Homo sapiens: one gene and its partners. The protein of the gene in region 2 purifies or fractionates together with the protein of the main gene of each other region. This does not show direct contact. Each region holds a gene or a part of one and is shown on either strand. Other genes may lie near its edges. The genes, in order: MARCHF5, SLC25A38 and AGK.

Region 1 (3,660 bases), on a different chromosome or scaffold from region 2:
TATTGTCATCTATGTGAACTACGGCATGTAAAGAATTAGGAGGCAGGTCAGGCGTGGTGGCTCATGCCTGTAATCCCAGCACTTTGGGAGGCTGAGTGGGGAGGACTGCTTGAGACCAGGAGTTCAAGGCCAGCCTGGCCAAAACAGTGAAACCCTGTTTCTACTAAAAATACAAAAAATTAGCTGAGCATGATGGCACACACCTGTAATCCCAGCTACTTGGGAGGCTGAAGCATGAGAATCGCTTGAACCCGGAGGCTGCAGTGAGCCAAGGTTGCACTACTGCATTCCAGCTTGGGCAACAGAGTGAAGGCTCTGCCTCAAAAAAAAAAAAAAAAAAGAATTAGGAGGCACTGAAGATGAACTGCTACATGAGTCTGGAGAAGAAGAGAAAAATATTTCTGCAGACATGGTCAGAAGAGCATTATAAACAAGGCAGAACCTAACTAGGTCTTGAAAAATGGGTAGAGCTTTGAAAGAAAAGATGCCAAACAAAACCCAAAAACAAAAACCACCTTATGTTTGGAAGAAAGTGCGCAAGCCAGTTTGGCTTGGGCAAAAGACTTGGGTACTTATACACTTATTCATAAAGAGAAGAAAGGCTTTAAAAAGGCAGTTGGTGCCAGCTATGTACGGCATATCTTAAACATAATAGGGAGCATAATAAATGGTCTGTGAATAATGGTGAGTGTCCTGAAGGACAGGCTAAAGAATATGATCTCTTTTTTTTTTTTGAGACAGGGTCTTGCTCTGTGGCCCAGGCTGGAGTGCAGTGGCATGGTGCAATCTCAGCTCACTGCAACCTCCATAACCTGGGCTCAGGTGATCCTCCCATCTCAGCCTCCCCAGCAGCTGCAATTACAGGTGTGGGCCACCACACCCAGCTATTTTTTCTTTCTTTCTTTTTTTTTTTAAGTAGACACAGGGTTTCTCCATGTTGCCCACGCTGGTCTCAAACTCTTGGGCTCAAGCAATCTGCTCCTCTCGGCCTCCCAAAGTGCTGGGATTACAGGCATGAGCCACTGAGCCCGGCCAGATCTTTTTTTCTTTTCTTTTCTTTTTTTTTTTTGAGACAAGGTCTTGCTTTGTTATACCCAGGCTGGAGTGCAGTGATGTGATAATGGCTTGCTGCAGCCTCAATCTCCCAGGCTCAAGTGAACCTCCCGCTTCAGCCTCCTGAGTAGCTGGGAGTATAGGCATGCACCACTACACTGGTTACTTTTTTATTTTTTGTAGAGACGGGGGTCTTAGTATTTTGCTCAGGTGGGTCTCAAACTCCTGAGATCAGGCGATCCTCCTGCCTCAGCCTCCCAAAGTGCCCAGCCCTGAACTTAATCTCAATAAGCAGTAAGAAAATACAAGTTTTGAGCAAATGAGGCAATTTAAAAAAATGGTGCTTCTGCATGATTATTCTAAGCACTGATATGTCACAAAGAATGAAAAGAAAGACATCATGATACAAAAGAGGGTCTCCTATGCACTAAGGCCCTTGTGGGAAAATAGGATAGGGAATACAGGCAGTTTCTGTTCTCAGTGAACTTCCAGATGAATATGTGTGTGTGTGGGAAGCTCTGAGACATGGGACAAGTATATTAAAAAATTTACAGTACAATGTGATACACTATAATAAATGCAACAAGGTTCTATTGAAACACAGAAAGGAGTTATTAACTCTGTTTGGGGGAGCTGTGCAAGGTGTCACTGTGGTATTTCAGCTGAATTCAATATGGGTAAGACTTCACCAGGTGTTAGGAGGGAGGAAGGCACCTAAAGCAAAAATAAAGAAATGAAAGAGCAGGATATGTTCAGGGGTCAATGAAGGGGAGTGCAGGAAAGGATGGTTAAGGTAGGTTGGGGCTGGATTATAGTAACAGATCAAAGCACGTTACCCCGTTGAAAGTTTACGTTTTATCCTTTTACGTGACACAGAGACTGGCAGATTTTTAAGTATAGAAATCGCATGATTATAATTGTGCCTTCGCTAATTCTAGTGCCACTCTGTAGGCCAAACTGGACCAAGTGAAAAATTGAAGCTAGAAAAAGGAAAATCAACAATATGTGATGAACAAGTGGATCTGGAAGGAAAGAAGGCAGCAAAAAAATGTAAATAGGCCGGGCAAGGTAGCTCATACCTGTAGTCCTAACACTTTGGGAGGCCAAGGTAGGATTGGTGGAGAACAGGAGTTTGAGACAGCCTGGGCAACATAGTGAGACCCGTCTCTATCCCCCTCCCCACCAAAAAAAAAAAAGTTTAAAAAAAATTAGCTGGGCATGCTGGCTTGCCCTGTGCTCCTAGCTACTTGGGAGGCTTGAGCCTGGGAGTGCAAGACCCTGTTTCTTTAACAAAAACAAAGAAAACAAGAAAAACTTATGTTTTGGCTAGCTTCATGCCTGTAATCCCAGCACTATGGGAGGCTGAGGCAGGAGGGTCACTTAAGCTCAGGAGTTTGAGACCAGCCTGGGCAACACGGCGAAAGCCCGTCTCTACTAAAAATACAAAAATTAGCTGGACATGCAGTCCCAGCTAGTCAGGAGGGTGAGGTGGGAGGATATTTTGAGCCGGAGGGTGGGGGATGGAGGTTGCAGTAAGCCGAGATGGGCCACTGCACTCCAGCCTGGGCGACAGAGCCAGACCCTGTCTCAAAAACAAACAAACAAATAAAATTTATGTTTTATAGCTGGTGGACAAGAAGACTGGTAATATCAAAGACCAAAAATTGAGAAGTCAAGATAAGTAGCTTAGTTTTAGATTGATTGGCAATACTGTATACACACAAATGGAAATGTCCACTGGGCAGGTAGAAATTAGGTGCTAAAGGAAATGAGGAAAAGAGGTCAGGAATAAAGACACAGATCTGGGAGTTGTTTGAATAAACAGGAAAGAGAGTGAGTAAGTGTACTTTCTCAAAATAGTAAATGCTGAGAATTGAACCATACATAGAAATTGAAGGAAGAAAAAGGTAACGTGATTCTGAAGGATAAAAAGTCCTGAAGAAAATGTCATTATATTTACTAAGAAATTATTGGTGACCTTTAGTATACATATACATATATAGAGAGAGAGATCGTGCAGTGGCACGATCTCAGCTCACTGCAACCTTTGCCTCCCAGGTTCAAGCGATTCTTGTGCCTCAGCCTCCCGAGTAGCTGAGATTACAGGTATGTGCCACTATGCCCTACTAATGTTTGTATTTTTTGTAGAGATGGGGATTCGCCATGTTGGCCAGGCTGGTCTTGAACTCCTGAGCTCAAGTGATTGGCCTGCCTCGGTCTTCCAAAGTGCTGGGATTACAGGTGTGAGCCACTGCACCCAGCCCTTCAGTACACTTTCAGTAGAGCTAATGACAAGAAAGGGGAATGAAAGTCAAATTATCAGGAAAAATAATAAAGAGAAAATAAGAATCTAAATGTCATAAACGAGACTGGATTAAAAAAGAAAAAAGGCCAGGTGTGGCGGCTCATGCCTGAAATCCCAGCACTTTGGGAGGCCGAGGCAGGTGGATCACGAGGTCGGGAGTTTGAACCAGTCTGGCCAACACAGTGAAACCCTGTCTCTACTAAAAATACAAAAAATTAGCTGGGTGTGGTGGCACGTGCTTGTAGTCCCAGCCACTTGGGAGGTTGAGGTGGGAGAATCAATTGAACTCAGGAGGTGGAGGT
Region 2 (2,401 bases):
CTTGCCTGGCCATCTTTCCTGAATTTTCAAGAAAAGATTTGAGTGCACAATAAGAATAGCTATAAAAGAGATAATAACAAGTGTTGACAAGGATGTGGAGAAATTGGAACTCTCATATACTGTGGCTGAGAATGGAAAATGGTATAGTCACTTTGTTTTTTTGTTTTTTGAGACAGGGTCTCACTCTGTCACCCAGGCTGGAGTGCAGTGGCATGATTTCAGCTCACTTTAACCTCTGCCTCCTCGGTTCAAGTGATTCTCGTGCCTCAGCCTCCCAAGTAGCTGGGATTACAGGCACATGCCACCACGCCCAGCTAATGTTTGTATTTTTAGTAGAGACGGGGTTTCACCATGTTGGCCAGGCTGCTCTTGAACTCCTGACCTCATGTGATCCACCCGCTTCGGTCTCCCAAAGTGCTGGGGTTACAGGCTTGAGCCACCGCACCCGGCCTACAGACTGCATTTATATGAAGTATCCAGAAAAGGCAAATTTATGAAGACAGAAAGCCTATCAGTGGTGGCCTGGGGCTGAGAATGAGGATTAATTACAAAAGGCATGAGAGATCTGTTTGGGGAATAAAAATGTTCTTAAACTGATTTATAGTGATGGTTGCATCATTCAGTAAAGCTGCTTTTTTGAACAGAAATTAGGTTTTAGGGACCTACATAGGTCAATAACCAGCCACCCTAGAACTATTTTATTTTAGAAAAGGGTTTGGTCCATTTTTATAAGGCACAGGTAAAGAAAACAGAAGTGTGACAACATCTTTTAGGTTTTCCAAACAGCTTTCAATGATAAAGTTCAATAAATAAAGTACAGCACTTTAATTGCAGGGAAAAAAAAATGCCAGAATTTAGAGGTAAAACAGTACAGGGGCCAAGACCAAAAAATTTTATTTGGAACATTCAGAGGCTAGAAAGCCACTGTCCCGTTCTCCAGAGCCTCTGAGAAGTTAACTGAGAACCAATTAAAGAAGGGCATCTGTTCCTCCTCATCCTACCATCACCTCAGTCAGTCTGTGACCTGGTGACAGTGACTCCTCTCCTCACATCCAGTCTTCCCTGGTTGGAGCTCCTCAGGCCCGGCAGGCAGCTTACAGCTTCTCTGGCTTTGTGATTGCTTGCCCAAGAACATACCCAAGGAGACCCTGTGGTGTAGGGGTGGGGCTGAAGCGCAGCCACCTGACAGAGCTCTCCTGGGAAAATGCCTTTCCAAGTAGCCTCTCAGAGTATGCAAAGCTCTCTCCTAACACCCTAGTGTGCTCTATGAATTGATGACTCCTCTTTTGGAGATTCTGAAGGCTGAAATCAGGTCCATATATTTTCTCCTTAAGGGGATTACTGAAGGCAAAGGCAACACAATTTCTGCCTGGTTTTCCAGGTAGGACTTCATCTTACTGCAGAATAGTAAGAAGCAGCAGCCCTTGGCAGAAACCAAGCAGGGCAACAGATTTCACCCGTTCCCAGTCCTCTCTTGGTCAGGACTTCAGGCCCATCTTGGCCATCATCTCTTCATACACCGTCCACGCCATTGCTGCCATTAGAGTTCTGCGGAGGGCTCGGGGGATGCCACCTTGGAAGAAGCCACGTAGTCCATAGTCCTATGGTGAAAATAAATGTCAGAACTCTGGAAGCAAAGTAGCAATACAATTAATTATCCACTTGGTACCACAGTGAGGGTCTCTGTTATCCCATGTTTAAGACTTAGTTTCTAAACTTTATGCCCAAAGTAAGAATAATGGGTCCAAGGAGACAACCAAAGAACTTAAAAAAAATTTTTTTTTTTTCCGAGGCAGAGTCTGGCTCTGTCGCCCAGGCTATAGTGCAGTGGCGCGATCTCGGCTCACTGCAACCTCTGCCTCCTGGGTTCAAGCGATTCTCCTGCCTCAGCCTTCCGAGTAGGTGGGACTACAGGCGCCCACCACCACGCCCGGCTAATTTTCGTATTTTTAGTTGAGATGGGGTTTTCACCATATTGGCCAGGCTGGTCTCGAACTCCTGACCTTGTGATCTGCCCACCTCAACCTCCCAAAGTGCTGGGATTACAGGCGTGAGCTACCGCGCTTGGCCAAAAACCATTTTTTTTTTTTGTAGTTGCTGGGCTTACCTTTTTAGGCTGCTCTATCTAGGGGGATTTCTTAGCTGAAAGTCTTTATGCAGGGTTGCTGTGTACTTGTGCAGTTTGTATACTGTACAGAAGCACTAAGCCCCAAGTAGCAGATGAAATCCAGGCAGAAACCTGCTTGCCAAACCCTGGATCCTGGATCCAGGCTGAAGGAAAAGGTGCCTTCTTGTCATTTGTCTTATCTTTTTGTAATTCACTGTATGCTCTTGGTGGCCCTCTCTTCATATTAATTAAAGAAAAAATGCCCCTTCCTCCTCCCTCATAATCTGGGTTGAT
Region 3 (3,660 bases), on a different chromosome or scaffold from region 2:
TAACCATGTACTGAGGTCCTATCCAGTGCTCTAAGTAAAATGAAGGATTGTAAGGATAAGTATTTGAAGAGAGAAAACAAACCTTGCACTATTTGCATTGGCCATGACTAAATCTGTAGAAAATTTGAAAGAATTCATTGAAAGAAAGTTAGAATAATTAATAATAATTTAATTAGGTTGCTGATTCAGCATTGATATAAAAATCAATTATATGTCCATCTACTAAATCAGGTAGAAAATGAAATTTTAATAGATATTATTTAGAATAGCATAAAAATTAAGATAACTGGGAATATATCCAGCAAAAGACAGGATATTCCAGAGAAAACTATAAAACTTCATTGAAAGACATTGAAGACCTAAATAAATGAAGAGATATACCCCGTTCATATGCTAGAGGAGTCAATATTGTAGAAATGTCATTTCTCTCCAAATTGATCTATGGGTACAATGCAGTGAGATCAATATTATAACATTTTTATGTGGAATTTAATAAAATAAACATTCTAAAATATTTATAGAACTCAAATGAGCTAAGAATAGCCAAGAGACTGTGTAAAAAGAGAAAAACATAGAACTTATTATAAAACTATAATAAGAGAAGCAGAGTATTAGTATAAATATGAGAAAATGGAACAACAATAGAAGAAAGAGACTAGAAACATTTACATGTATATAGACATGATGTATGGCAGAGGTTTATTGAAGATCAATGGGGGAAAATGGAGATTTCAATAAATGGCGCTTGGACAACTGGCTTTCTATTTGGAAAGAACATAAAATTGGAGCTTTACCTCCATCATTCACAAAACTCACTTATAAGTGGGGGTATTTCCTTTTTAAAGAAAAATGGAACTATGTTGCAAATCTTTTCACCTATTTTTCCCATGTCAATAGATAGAAAATAATACATATATAAAATAGATATGACTTTTAATAAATGTACCAAAATTTATTCAGTCTGATTAGTTCATTGCAAATATTTTACTATTATACAGTGAGCATAGTTGTATAAGAGATCCTAATTTTCACACATTCTATACTCCTACAGCTTCTTTCATACACTGAATGTGCTGCTTTTAATAAGTGAACATTTTGAGCTATTACACGGCAGCTACACTGCCTTTATTGTATTGCATTTGCTTTTATTTTTATAAAGAACTGTGCAAAAACGAAACAAATGAATTTGCTGCTACTAGTGATAAGCGGCACAGTATCGTATACTTTTAAATAGGCACAAAGATAAAAAGCACTTGGCATTGTGAGTGTGGCTAATCTTGAGCGCACTCACATACTCACTGAACTCAATCCATTCAGTGGTACTCAGTCATCAGAGAAAAGAACAATGGTAAAGAACATGAATAAAATACTCGGAATACATATTATTAAAGACTTGGTATAAAGGAGATGTATAATTAGACATTTTATCTTTCTCTTTTAAATTCCTCTGGAACAGAATCTATTTTTTTTTTTTTAGCATTCACATATCCACTTTCACCAGTGTTTTTCAGATTTCCATTATGTAAAAAAGGACTGCCTACATTATATATTCATCAGGTTATTCCAGTAGGATAAATTCCTAGAAATACAGTTAATAGGGCAGAAGGTATGCATATATTTTAGACACTTTATGTATACTATGCCAAATTGCTGAGACAGGATGTTCCAATCTATATTCCCATCAGAAACACACACCACCACTAAGCTTTTAATCTATAACATGCTTTTTAGTCATGACAATTCAATCTTACTATTTTAATTTGCATTTCTTTGCTGAAATCACTCTGTCTCCTTACCTACAAAATGCAGATAAAGATATCTACCTATAAGGATTACATAATATTATGTAAAATTCTTAGGACAGGTGCCTCACATGTAGTAAATAATCAGCAAATATAAGCTATTTTTTCATATGCTTATTTCTTTTATGAATTTTCTATTCTTACCCCTTGCTCACTTTTTATATTAGTCCTTTGCCCATTTCTCATTGCTTTATCCTAAGAGCTTGTTAAAAGGAAAGTGAATTCCTGGTCTATCACATGCTAATATTTTTCCCAATATGTCATTTAAAAGTTTGTTTAGAATGTCTTTTTAAATAAAAAGACAAATGCATCAATATGATTTTTGCCTTAAATGTCATGCTTAGAGAGGCCTTGTCCTCCTTAATTTTATACTGATAATCACTTAGATTTTACCCTAATACTTTTTTTTAACTTCAAACTTCTATTTTAAGTTCCGGGATACATACACAGGAGGCGCAGCCTTGTTACATAGGTATAAACGTGTGCCATTTACCCTACTACTTTAATGATTTTATTATTTTACATTTAGTTCTTTAATCAAACTAGAATTTTTTTTATAGGGTGAAGGGAGCTATGTTTTCCAAATGTTTTGCAATGGACATGTATTATTTTCATAGTTAGAAAACATCTCAATACTCTGAACATTAATATTAGAATCAAACTTATCACTCTATTAATATTGGAATCAAACTTTTCACGACATTCCAACTCCATCTGCTAATTTTCAGACTGGCCTAGACAACTGTGAACAGACTAATTTGCATACAAGCTGAATGTAATTAGTCCACAGTTAACAATTACTTTCCTATTGGCATTCTCATTGATATAAATTACCAAGGTTTTCTCTATACTAGGGTCAGTAAACTTTTTCTGTAAGTGACCAGATAATAAACATTTTAGGCTTTGGGCCATACAATCTGTCACAACTACTCAGCTCTCCCCTGTAGCACAAAGGCAGCCACAGACAATATATTTGTGAATGAATATGGCTGTGCTCCAATAAAACTTTATTTATGGATACTGAAACTTGAACTTTACGTATTTTTCTGTTCACAAAAATTATTCTTTTGATTTTCTTTGCATCATTTAAAATTAGAAGATTCTTGGCTTCTGGGCTATATAAAAACAGGTGGCAGACCAGTTTGCCAATGCCTGCTTTATTTCAATACTTTTGGGTGTGTTGTCTATAGTAGCACCACCCAACAGAACCTTCTGCACTGACGGACAGGCTGTATACCTGTGCTTTCCAGTATGATGGCTACTAGCTACATATGGCTGTTGAGCACTTGAAATGTGGTGAGTGTGACTTAGGAACTAAGTTTTGAATTTTATTTAATTCTAATTAATTTAAATTTAACTAGCCACATGTGGCTAATAGCTACCGTATGGGATAGTGCATACCTATAGATTGGGCCTAAATAAATAATATGTAGATATAGATACAGATGTATGTGTGTGGGTATTTTTCTCCTGAGGATCTAATTTGACATATTTAGTACAGTCACAAAAATCGTGGATATTTACTCAACTAAAAGTTCCACAATTTTTTTCCAGTGACAAATGGGAATAGCTAATTTTCATTTCTAAAGCCCTCTTGCCCTAAGTTCTCTGAATGCCAATTAAGCAATGAGCAGAACATGTAATCAGAGCCCCAGAAGCATTTATGCCACTCCTGCAGGTGGCAGCTTCTCCTCATTGCTGTTATTCCTTAAAGGCACACCACATCCTCTTTCTCCTGACACTGCCCTCTCTATCTCCACAGGGTAAAAATAAAAATAACTGAATTAGTGGGAGAGGACTATAGCTATTGTCACTTTTCTTAGGTACCAAATGCTTTTCTAATAAAAAAGCACACTTA

Evidence for each region.
Region 1: the proteins of SLC25A38 (region 2) and MARCHF5 purify together in Homo sapiens (affinity purification with western blotting; one study listed by BioGRID). This does not show direct contact.
Region 3: the proteins of SLC25A38 (region 2) and AGK purify together in Homo sapiens (affinity purification with mass spectrometry; one large-scale study listed by BioGRID and IntAct). This does not show direct contact.

Annotation. Positions count from the first base shown.
Region 1 is NC_000010.11:92,297,572-92,301,231, reverse strand, and holds part of MARCHF5 (E3 ubiquitin-protein ligase MARCHF5), read right to left. Parts: intron 1-3,660. UniProt on the Homo sapiens protein: Mitochondrial E3 ubiquitin-protein ligase that plays a crucial role in the control of mitochondrial morphology by acting as a positive regulator of mitochondrial fission and as an important regulator of immune response.
Region 2 is NC_000003.12:39,395,598-39,397,998, reverse strand, and holds the end of SLC25A38 (mitochondrial glycine transporter), read right to left. Parts: intron 1,602-2,401; coding exon 1,479-1,601; 3' UTR 648-1,478; downstream 1-647. UniProt on the Homo sapiens protein: Mitochondrial glycine transporter that imports glycine into the mitochondrial matrix.
Region 3 is NC_000007.14:141,641,910-141,645,569, reverse strand, and holds part of AGK (acylglycerol kinase, mitochondrial isoform 1 precursor), read right to left. Parts: intron 1-3,660. UniProt on the Homo sapiens protein: Lipid kinase that can phosphorylate both monoacylglycerol and diacylglycerol to form lysophosphatidic acid (LPA) and phosphatidic acid (PA), respectively. Does not phosphorylate sphingosine. Phosphorylates ceramide.